Linked DNA regions of Homo sapiens: region 1 is linked to region 2. A link means that fine-mapping ties the variant in region 2 to the expression of a gene that starts in the linked region. Tissue or cell type: unexposed skin. Region 2 holds a variant in brackets; the other region holds the start of a gene. All regions are shown on one strand. Distances are from middle to middle.

The links. PIP is the estimated chance that this variant, and not a neighbour inherited with it, causes the effect.
Region 1: CLDN16 starts here. The variant in region 2 is the best candidate, but not a certain one, in a credible set for the expression of CLDN16 in unexposed skin (GTEx, PIP 0.59).

The regions. Positions count from the first base shown.
Region 1 is chr3:190,386,299-190,390,549 of GRCh38, forward strand. It overlaps CLDN16 (claudin 16), which reads left to right and starts at 1,865. Exons shown (of 5, transcript NM_006580.4): 1 at 1,865-2,145. The coding sequence starts at 2,032. RefSeq lists an enhancer at 122-416.
Region 2 is chr3:190,331,224-190,335,474 of GRCh38, forward strand. It overlaps a transcript of CLDN16 not described here. Among named protein-coding and RNA genes, the nearest start is that of CLDN1, 11 kb to the left of the region's middle. The variant G/A (reference allele first, on the strand shown) is at 2,200.

The DNA of each region.
Region 1 (4,251 bases), 55 kb after region 2:
AAATAAGTAAAATAAAAGCATCTGTAATGTACCTCGCAGATAGTTATAACGATCGCTAATGTGTACAGTAATCACCCCTTCTCCTTGAGGAATATGTTCAAAGACCCTCAGTGGATGTCAGAAACGAAGGACAGTACTGGATCCTACACACACTATACGCAACAGTAGGTCAGATCACCGAGGCAGCTATTAAGTGACTAAGGGGTGGGTAGTGCATACAATGTGGAAATGCTGGCCAAAGGGATGATTCATATCCCATGTGAAGTGGGATGGCTTGAGATTTCATCACGCTATTCAGAACAGTGTTCAATTTACCACTGATGAATTGTTTATCTATGAAATTTCCCATGTAATTTTTGCAGACCATGATTAACCACTGGTAACTGAAGCCTCAAAAGGGAAATTCTGGATAGCAGGGGTGGTACTGTAGACCCTATGTATAGAAATAATTAAGCTTATATTCCACCTATGGTTTTCCATGCAGCTTTTACATTTAAATTTACGTTTTATATACTTGAATAAAATGAATTAAAATTAGAAAAAACAAAGTTTAGCCACAAAAAGTTTATTATTGTAATATATTTTGAAAAATGGTTTATCAATACTGATTTTAGCCTTTTATACTGTATATTATGATCAAATAATTTTCAAATGGAAAAAAGTAATCCTTTTATAAGCTGTTGGTAAAATAAGAATCTTAGTAGCTGATTCATGCCAGAGTAATTACCTCTTTCTGGCCTTTTCTCTGCTCCTTTCTTTCTCTCCCTCCCAATTTCTTTCTCTCACTCTGTCTCCCCTTTGACATTCTCTCCTACATTAAGAATCACCACTTTGTTTTTACTGTTCTCATTCAAAATTTTTATTTTAGTATATAGAAGTCTACCTGATGAAGAGAAAATGTTGATATATGTGCTTTTTAAAGCATATTAAAGAGTATTGGTTATGGAATTTGTAGACCCATTAAGGATACCTATTCAGATACAGATAAAATTCCAGTTGCCCCAGTTACATATTAAAAACTTTTTTTTACAAAAAAGAAACACACTTTCTTCCTAATATAACAGTTTTTTTTTCTTCATTAGACGCGTTTTCAAACATTGGTCCATGAGGGAAAAGTAATAATATAGGAAATTCTTAGTCATGTTAATATTTTCCATTTAGCTATTACTGACAGATGCTATTCTAAGCGACTTACAGGCACAATATCTTTTATTCCTCATATGAAGAACAAGCATTATATAAAGAAAATATTAATACATGCATTTTCAGAAACTACAGCCCAAGGGCTCTCAGACCATAAATTCAGAGCAAGAATTTCCACCCAGAGCTGTCTGCATTAAAATGCACACTTGTTCCCACTCTACGATGCTGAAAGGTTAGGAGCCTTGGCTGTCCCTACTGCCCAGGTGCTACAAGTCCTTCATGGGGCTGTTCTACGCAACACTTTGGAATGCAGACTCCCTTGAGCGAGCACTTGTTTAGCATAGTTTCACCAGTGGCCTGTCTGTCTAAAGTAGTCGGCGAATATTAAAATAGTCCTAACAATAAAATAACACTCAGTCAACCGTGTAGCCTTCTTCCGAGTGGGGAGGAGAATAGCTCACTCTCCCTAGAGGGCCTAAGAAAGATCAGTTTACAGGTTCCAGCATGGGGTGGGACCCTTCCTCCTTCCCCCGTCTTGGCACTGGCACTTGGTCTGGTGACCACCACTAGCCCACAGTTGGGTCAGAAAACGTTACAGAACTCCTCTCTCCCCCACCCGAAACACACTCAGCCCTTGCACTGACCTGCCTTCTGATTGGAGGCTGGTTGCTTCGGATAATGACCTCCAGGACCCCACTGTTGGTTACAGCCTGTTTGTATTATTCTTACTGCAACTCAAGACACCTGCAGCAGGGCGTGAGAAAAAGTAAAAGACCAGTATTTTCACATTGCCAGGTACCAGAAACACAGAAGACTGACACCCGCCACTTAAGTGGGGCCAGGGCTGGTGTCTGCCCATGTTGCCATCCTGATGGGCTGCTTGCCACAATGAGGGATCTTCTTCAATACATCGCTTGCTTCTTTGCCTTTTTCTCTGCTGGGTTTTTGATTGTGGCCACCTGGACTGACTGTTGGATGGTGAATGCTGATGACTCTCTGGAGGTAAGAAGATAGCAGCTTCTTTTCATGATCCAGGCCAGCCCAAATTTTCGCTAAGTCCCAACTGCCATGTACAACATTCAGTATCTTTACTAAGGCTAATGATACCAAAAATAGGCAACATGGACTATTTATTGAGTCTTTACATTATTAGCTCATTTAATCCTCATAGTTAATTTATGAGGTAGGTCTTGTTATCCCATTAAACAGATGAAGTTACTAAATAGTTCCTCCTTTTTTCACAAGGATAAATTTCCACAAGGGTAATTAAGTGATCTCTGCTACTGAGACCTCCAGAAATTCACGTCTTCCATTGCTGCATATATCATATTGAGTAACATTTCAGTACCACCCTTTTTTCTAAGATAAATTTTTTACTCTTGATGACAGCATTAAGAATAGTGTGATAGACTTTTTTTAAGGAGTGTTAATAATCTAAAACGTTGAGAAAGAAAATGCAAGGCATGCAAAACCTACCCAATTAACATGCAAGAGGAAAAAACATTATCTTAATGATTTCCAAGTAAAAGAAAAAATGTTGAGGGAGAAAATGTCTTTCCAGTGCATCCCAATGTACGGGGGACAGGCATGGATTTAAATCCTCCCTTAAAATGAGTTGCTCTAGGGAACTGACTACTATTCAAAAGATGAGTGAGTGGGTTCACATTTGAGGATTTTATTTTTCTCGCTGGAGAAGCTCAGAAAGAAGTAATTTTGAAGTTCAAAACCATTACCTGTGGCCATAGGAATCTGAGAGAGGCAGAACTGAGTAAAAAATCAAATCTTCAGAATTAGCTGCTGTTCATTAATGAGGCTTAGGAAAACACAGGTAAGAAAAAGAAACAATATTTCAAGAGCTCAAAAAAAGGAGTATATAGCAAAACAATTTGCTTTTTAATGTGCATCCTGAAGGGAACAATTTACCCTAGCAAATGCTATAATGTCACCTCTATAAAGTTTAAGAAAGATACTCGACTGAGTTTATATATTTTTCTTCTAATTTTCTTTATTAAACTCTCAAATTGGAGTTCCAAATGGAAAGTAATAATGATTCTATTTTGCTGTGCATTATTTTTGCTGCTCGCTTTTTCTTGCTTTTAATTTGCCTCTGACTTGAACATGGCATTTCAAAACCAATGGAGTTAGGAATACCTCTTTAATGCTAGAAAATTACATTTCCAAAAATTGTGATAGAATTGAACTACTGTAAAGGATGTCTGCTATAAGTGAGCCCAGTGATGCATTTTATCTGGCCATGAATATATGCAAAGAATGAAATAAATGCCCTTTGAACAGTGCTCAGGGAAAAGTGCAGATAAAACGTTCTGCTGTCATTAGTTTGCCATTATCTAGATGGCCAGTGGTAGGTGATGAATACAGAAATATGTTTAACTTGAGCATAATTATAATTATGTTTTTTAAAATACAAAAAAATGTAAAATCCCATCTAGGGGCATTGTTAAAATATTTTCTAAAACAATTTAAAAGTCTTTCTGCTTAAGCTGACATAATTGCTAACTTCATTTGATAAGAAATAGTTTTAGAAAGGGTCAAACCTTGCTGAGAGAGAGATTGAGAGTCCTGGAATTTAAAGTGTCTTCTTTCATTTTAGTATAACCAACCAATTTGCCATCTGTCCCATGAAAGAATACTTCTAGTTAAAACGAATGGAATGAGCAGTCCAGGTTACACACCTCAAGTAAACCCTTGCTAACCTTGAAAAATAGTTAATATTTCTTAGCTTCCTTCTTATTTCCCATACTTAAAATGTATTGCTATAATATTCCCAAGAAGCCTTCACATTTAAAGGAAGAGGCTGGGCATGGTGGCTTATGCCTGTAATCCCAATACTTTGGAAGGCCGAGGCGGGCAGATCACAGGTCAAGAGATTGAGACCATCCTGGCCGACATAGTGAAACCCCATCTCTAACAAAAATACAAAAATTAGCTGGGTGTGGTGGCAGGGGCCTGTAGTCCCAGCTACTAAGGAGGCTGAGGCAGGAGAATCGCTTGAACTAGGGAGGAGGAGGTTGCACTGAGCCGAGATTGTGCCACTGCACTCCAGCCTGGCGACAGAGCGAGACTCCATCTTAAAAAAGAAGAAGAAGA
Region 2 (4,251 bases):
TGTCTTCTCCCAAGCAACTTTCTTCCTCTACCGTTGACATTAATGGTGGCTGCCACCATATTCCCACAAGCTTTATCAAATATTTACTGAGTACACAGTTTACTAAACACAGCTCCAGGATTTAGAACAGCCAAAGGCTTGTTTATTATTTGCTACAGTATTATTTGGTAAAAATTGTCTTTGGAATCCTAGGCAGGATATAGAAAGTAGCATTTAGTTATAATCTAGGCCCTAACTGCATTGTCCAACTTGATAGCCACTAGTCACACATGGCTATTTAAATTTTAATTAATGAAAATTAAAAATTCAGTTCCTCTGTTGTACTTGACAATTTCAAGTAACTACATACTGGCAATGCAGATATAGAGCATTCTGCCACCTCACGTACTTATGTTGTTCATCACTACTAGAGTGTTCTTGTCACAGTTCTAAAATGTATTTGACTACACGGATAGTCTCTGTTGAAATTTTTAAAATATCTCTCTAAAAATTAGTCTATTAGTTTTCTGTGGTTACTGTAATGAATTACCACAAATTTAGTGGCTTAAAACAGCAAATTTGTTATTTGCAGTTCTGTAGTTGAGAAAACTGAAAGGGATCTCACTGGGCTATAATTAAAATGTCCACAAGCCTATGTACTTCTCTGGAGGCTCCATTCCTTGTCCTGGTACATTCTAGAGGGATCTATATCCCTTGGCTCATGGCCATCTTCCTCCGTCTTCAAAGCCAGCAAGTATGGGCCAAATGCTTTTCACAAAGCCATTTCTCTGGTTCACTCTCTTTACCTCCTTCTGACATTTATAAGGACACTTGTGATAACATTGGGCTCATTCAGATAATCCAAGATAATCACATCTCAAGATCAATTGATGAACAATCTTAATTCCCATCGTGCCATGTAATATAACATATCTCTGAGTTTGAAGAATAAAGACATGTATATATTTGGCAGAGGGAGGTTATTATTCTACCTACCATCATGAGTAAATATTTTATGAAGTACATTGATTTTCCTTGTAGAAAGAGGCTATGTAAATATATTGCAGATAATTATTCACATATTTCTGAATTTAACAAAAGTTCTGATTATATGTAATGAAATTAATTAATAAAAATAAGATATTAATAGTTTGCTTAATATGCACCAGACAGTAAGGGCTAAGATTTTAAGAGCTTATATGCATGAACTCATGATTGAGTAAAGAGAGACATTAATAACACCTTAAGTAGGAGTGTGGGATAAATGAAGACATGGAATCTTAATTGGGAAAATGGGGTTCTCTTCCTGGCATAGCCACTTACTCACCTGTGCAATTTCTAAGGATTTAAATTTTTCAGGTAGATAAAAGGAGAACAGATTAAAATTATCTCTAAGGTCTCCTCCGACACTTAAATTTTTCCACTATTAATTAAGTTAGCAGAAAGATAAGATTATGCAAAAGCACAATATCGAGTAATACAGAATTGCTGTGTATTACTGGAAAATTAAACAAGATAATATGACTTGGAAGACTAAAGAAAGATTATTTAATCAGGTATAGCAGAGCATGATTTTTTTTTTTTTGTTACAAGACATACTATGGCTTAAGAGACTGGATAGTAAAGAAACTGAATAAAAATAGTCAAACCGAGCCCAGAAACTGATGGCATACACTTTGCTTTATTAAGGATTGAGATTGAAGGAGGAATACGAAGGGAACATTGTATTTCCAGTTGGGTTAAACTGACATTAATTATTAGTCGTACACATGATTAAGCAAATTTTTATCCCCCTGCTTTATTGTAGTCAGGTGTTTAGGGAAAAAGGAGAATATTACTGCCATTAGAAGAGCTACATCTCTGTCAAAAGCTATCAGACCATACCCAAATAAACCTTTACACCCAACAAGGTTGATAAACAACTGAGACTCTTTTTGTGGTAGACATTAGCATGTGCGTTATGCGGTAACTCAAAGAGTGAGACAAAGGAATTTTCTCAATAAAATTAGGTAATTTCATTCTATTTTAAATGAAATAGACCTCAGGTTTAGGAACTCTAAGGATCCACAACTTTCAGATCAAGGTGTGTTAAAATAATTTATTTTCCCTAAAAGGGTATTAATTCTAAGACTTATTCAGATTCTTAGAAATATTTGGGCCAATGGCACTGTAAGTATGTTAACAAATTACCCATTTTGAGTGCCTTAAAGTACTTTAAGT[G/A]TATGCACTATTACTCAAAAACTATGGATAAAATTTTATATAATACCAGTAGGATATTTTCCCTTATAGGGATTGAATACTATGTAGCTAAAACAATTATCAGTCTATCATCTATCTATCTATCTATCTATCTATCTATCTATCTATCTATCTATCTATCAATCATCTTTCTATAAATCTACTGATCTTTCATCTTTCTATGATATTCTGCCTAATGTTCAGCAGCCCATTGTGCATGCCACACTTACTAAAATCTTATCATAACGTGGAGTTCTTTCTCTGATAATGAAAAAGAAAAGTATGCTGTCCCTCCTTGAAATTCTATGATTTTTCACTCTCTATTACACACATTTACTCATTCAATCATTTATTAATCTTTCATATTCTTCAAAGGTGTATTATTTGCAAGGCACTGGAAATACTGTGATAAAAGGCACATACTTCAATGGGGTGAGGGGTAACATGCAGCTGACAGAAACATTGTCACAGAACCATGTAAATTTTATGAAAATTTTAGGTAAAGAGTATTATGGAATCAGGGTAGAGTGGCATCTAAAATTTGAGACAAGGAGGAGGGGCTAGAGTTGCCATTAAAAAGATATTGCTTAAAGTGGAATCTTGAAGAACATGAATGAATCATTCATGATTTCTTCCATTCATTCATTTATTGCTACTCTGCCAAAATGATGCAAAAACAAAGCCATTCCTGTGCTCAAGTAATTAAAAATCTATTTGAGAAATAACTTGTAGCAAACTGGAGTACAGAGTGATTGTTGTTAGGATAAAACTATACGTGTGTGTTTAGCACAATGAGGGAAGTTGTAGTGGGCTAGCAGAAGGATGTACTCAGATTAGGGAGAGCAATATCAGATAAGAGGAAAAGTATTTGAGAAGTGGAAGGATAAGAAATTTGACTGGAGTATATGCTATATCAGGTAGGGAGCCATGGAATATGAAGCTGCAAAATGGAATAAAGAGACTGAGAAGGGCCCACTATGCTAAAGACTTTGAGCTTCATCTCTTAGGTTGTGTGCAAGCACTGAATGATTTGTGGACAAGCACTGGACAATTTTTTGTGTGTGCTCCTCTACATCCATTCTGCAACATTTTCCACTCAGTCTGTTCCCCAGCAACTGAATCTTTCCACTTGCATTCATAGTCTCTCTTGCTCTCTGGCTTTGGCCAAAGAGAAGCACCTTTAGAAAGTCAGAGCACAGGAGAAAAGTGAAACTGGAATGGTAGATGTTGTTGGTAACCACCACGTCATCTTCTTTGTTAGGAGGGTAACCCATCTCCCAGGTGCTACAGGTATTGGTTACTAGCAAATTGCATTGTTAGCAGCAATGAGGAAAGCCCTTGGCTAGTGAGAGCCATGTGACTTAGAGATGCCTGGGAAGGTATGCAGCTTTCCTCTTCACCAGTGGCTGGTAAGCGGTGGTTGACCTATGCAATGGTGGAACAGCCTTGCCCCCTTGCATCTAGGCAGTAGAATCTCTGGAAACAATTTGTACTCCAGAGCTCGTTGTGGGTTCAGTCTAAAGATGAATTCTTTTATTTTTCTTTTCTTTTCTTTTTATTCTTTTCTTTCCTTTTCTTTTTTCTTTTTTTTTTTTTTTGTTTGTTGTGTTTGTTTGCTTTTGAGATGGAGTTTTGCTCTGTTGCCCTGGCTAGAGTGCAGTGGCACGATCTTAACTCACTGCAACCTATGGCTCCCAGGTTCAAGCGATTCTCCTGCCACAGCCTCCCTAGTAGCTGAGATTACAGGCACCCGCCACCATGCCCAGCTAATTTTTGTATTTTTAGTAGGGACGGAGTTTCACCACGTTGGCCAGGCTGGTCTCGAACTCTTGACCTCAGGTGATCCTCTCGCCTCTGCCTCCCAAAGTGCTAGGATTACAGATGTGAGCCACTGCACCTGGCCCTGAGGATGAATTCTTCTGAAATCACATCTTCATCTAGCTTCTTCCTTTGTACTCTTCTGCTACTCTTGCCTCTTTAAAGGTTTATCCTGGCTGGGTGCAGTGGCTCACGCCTGTAATCCCAGCACTTTGA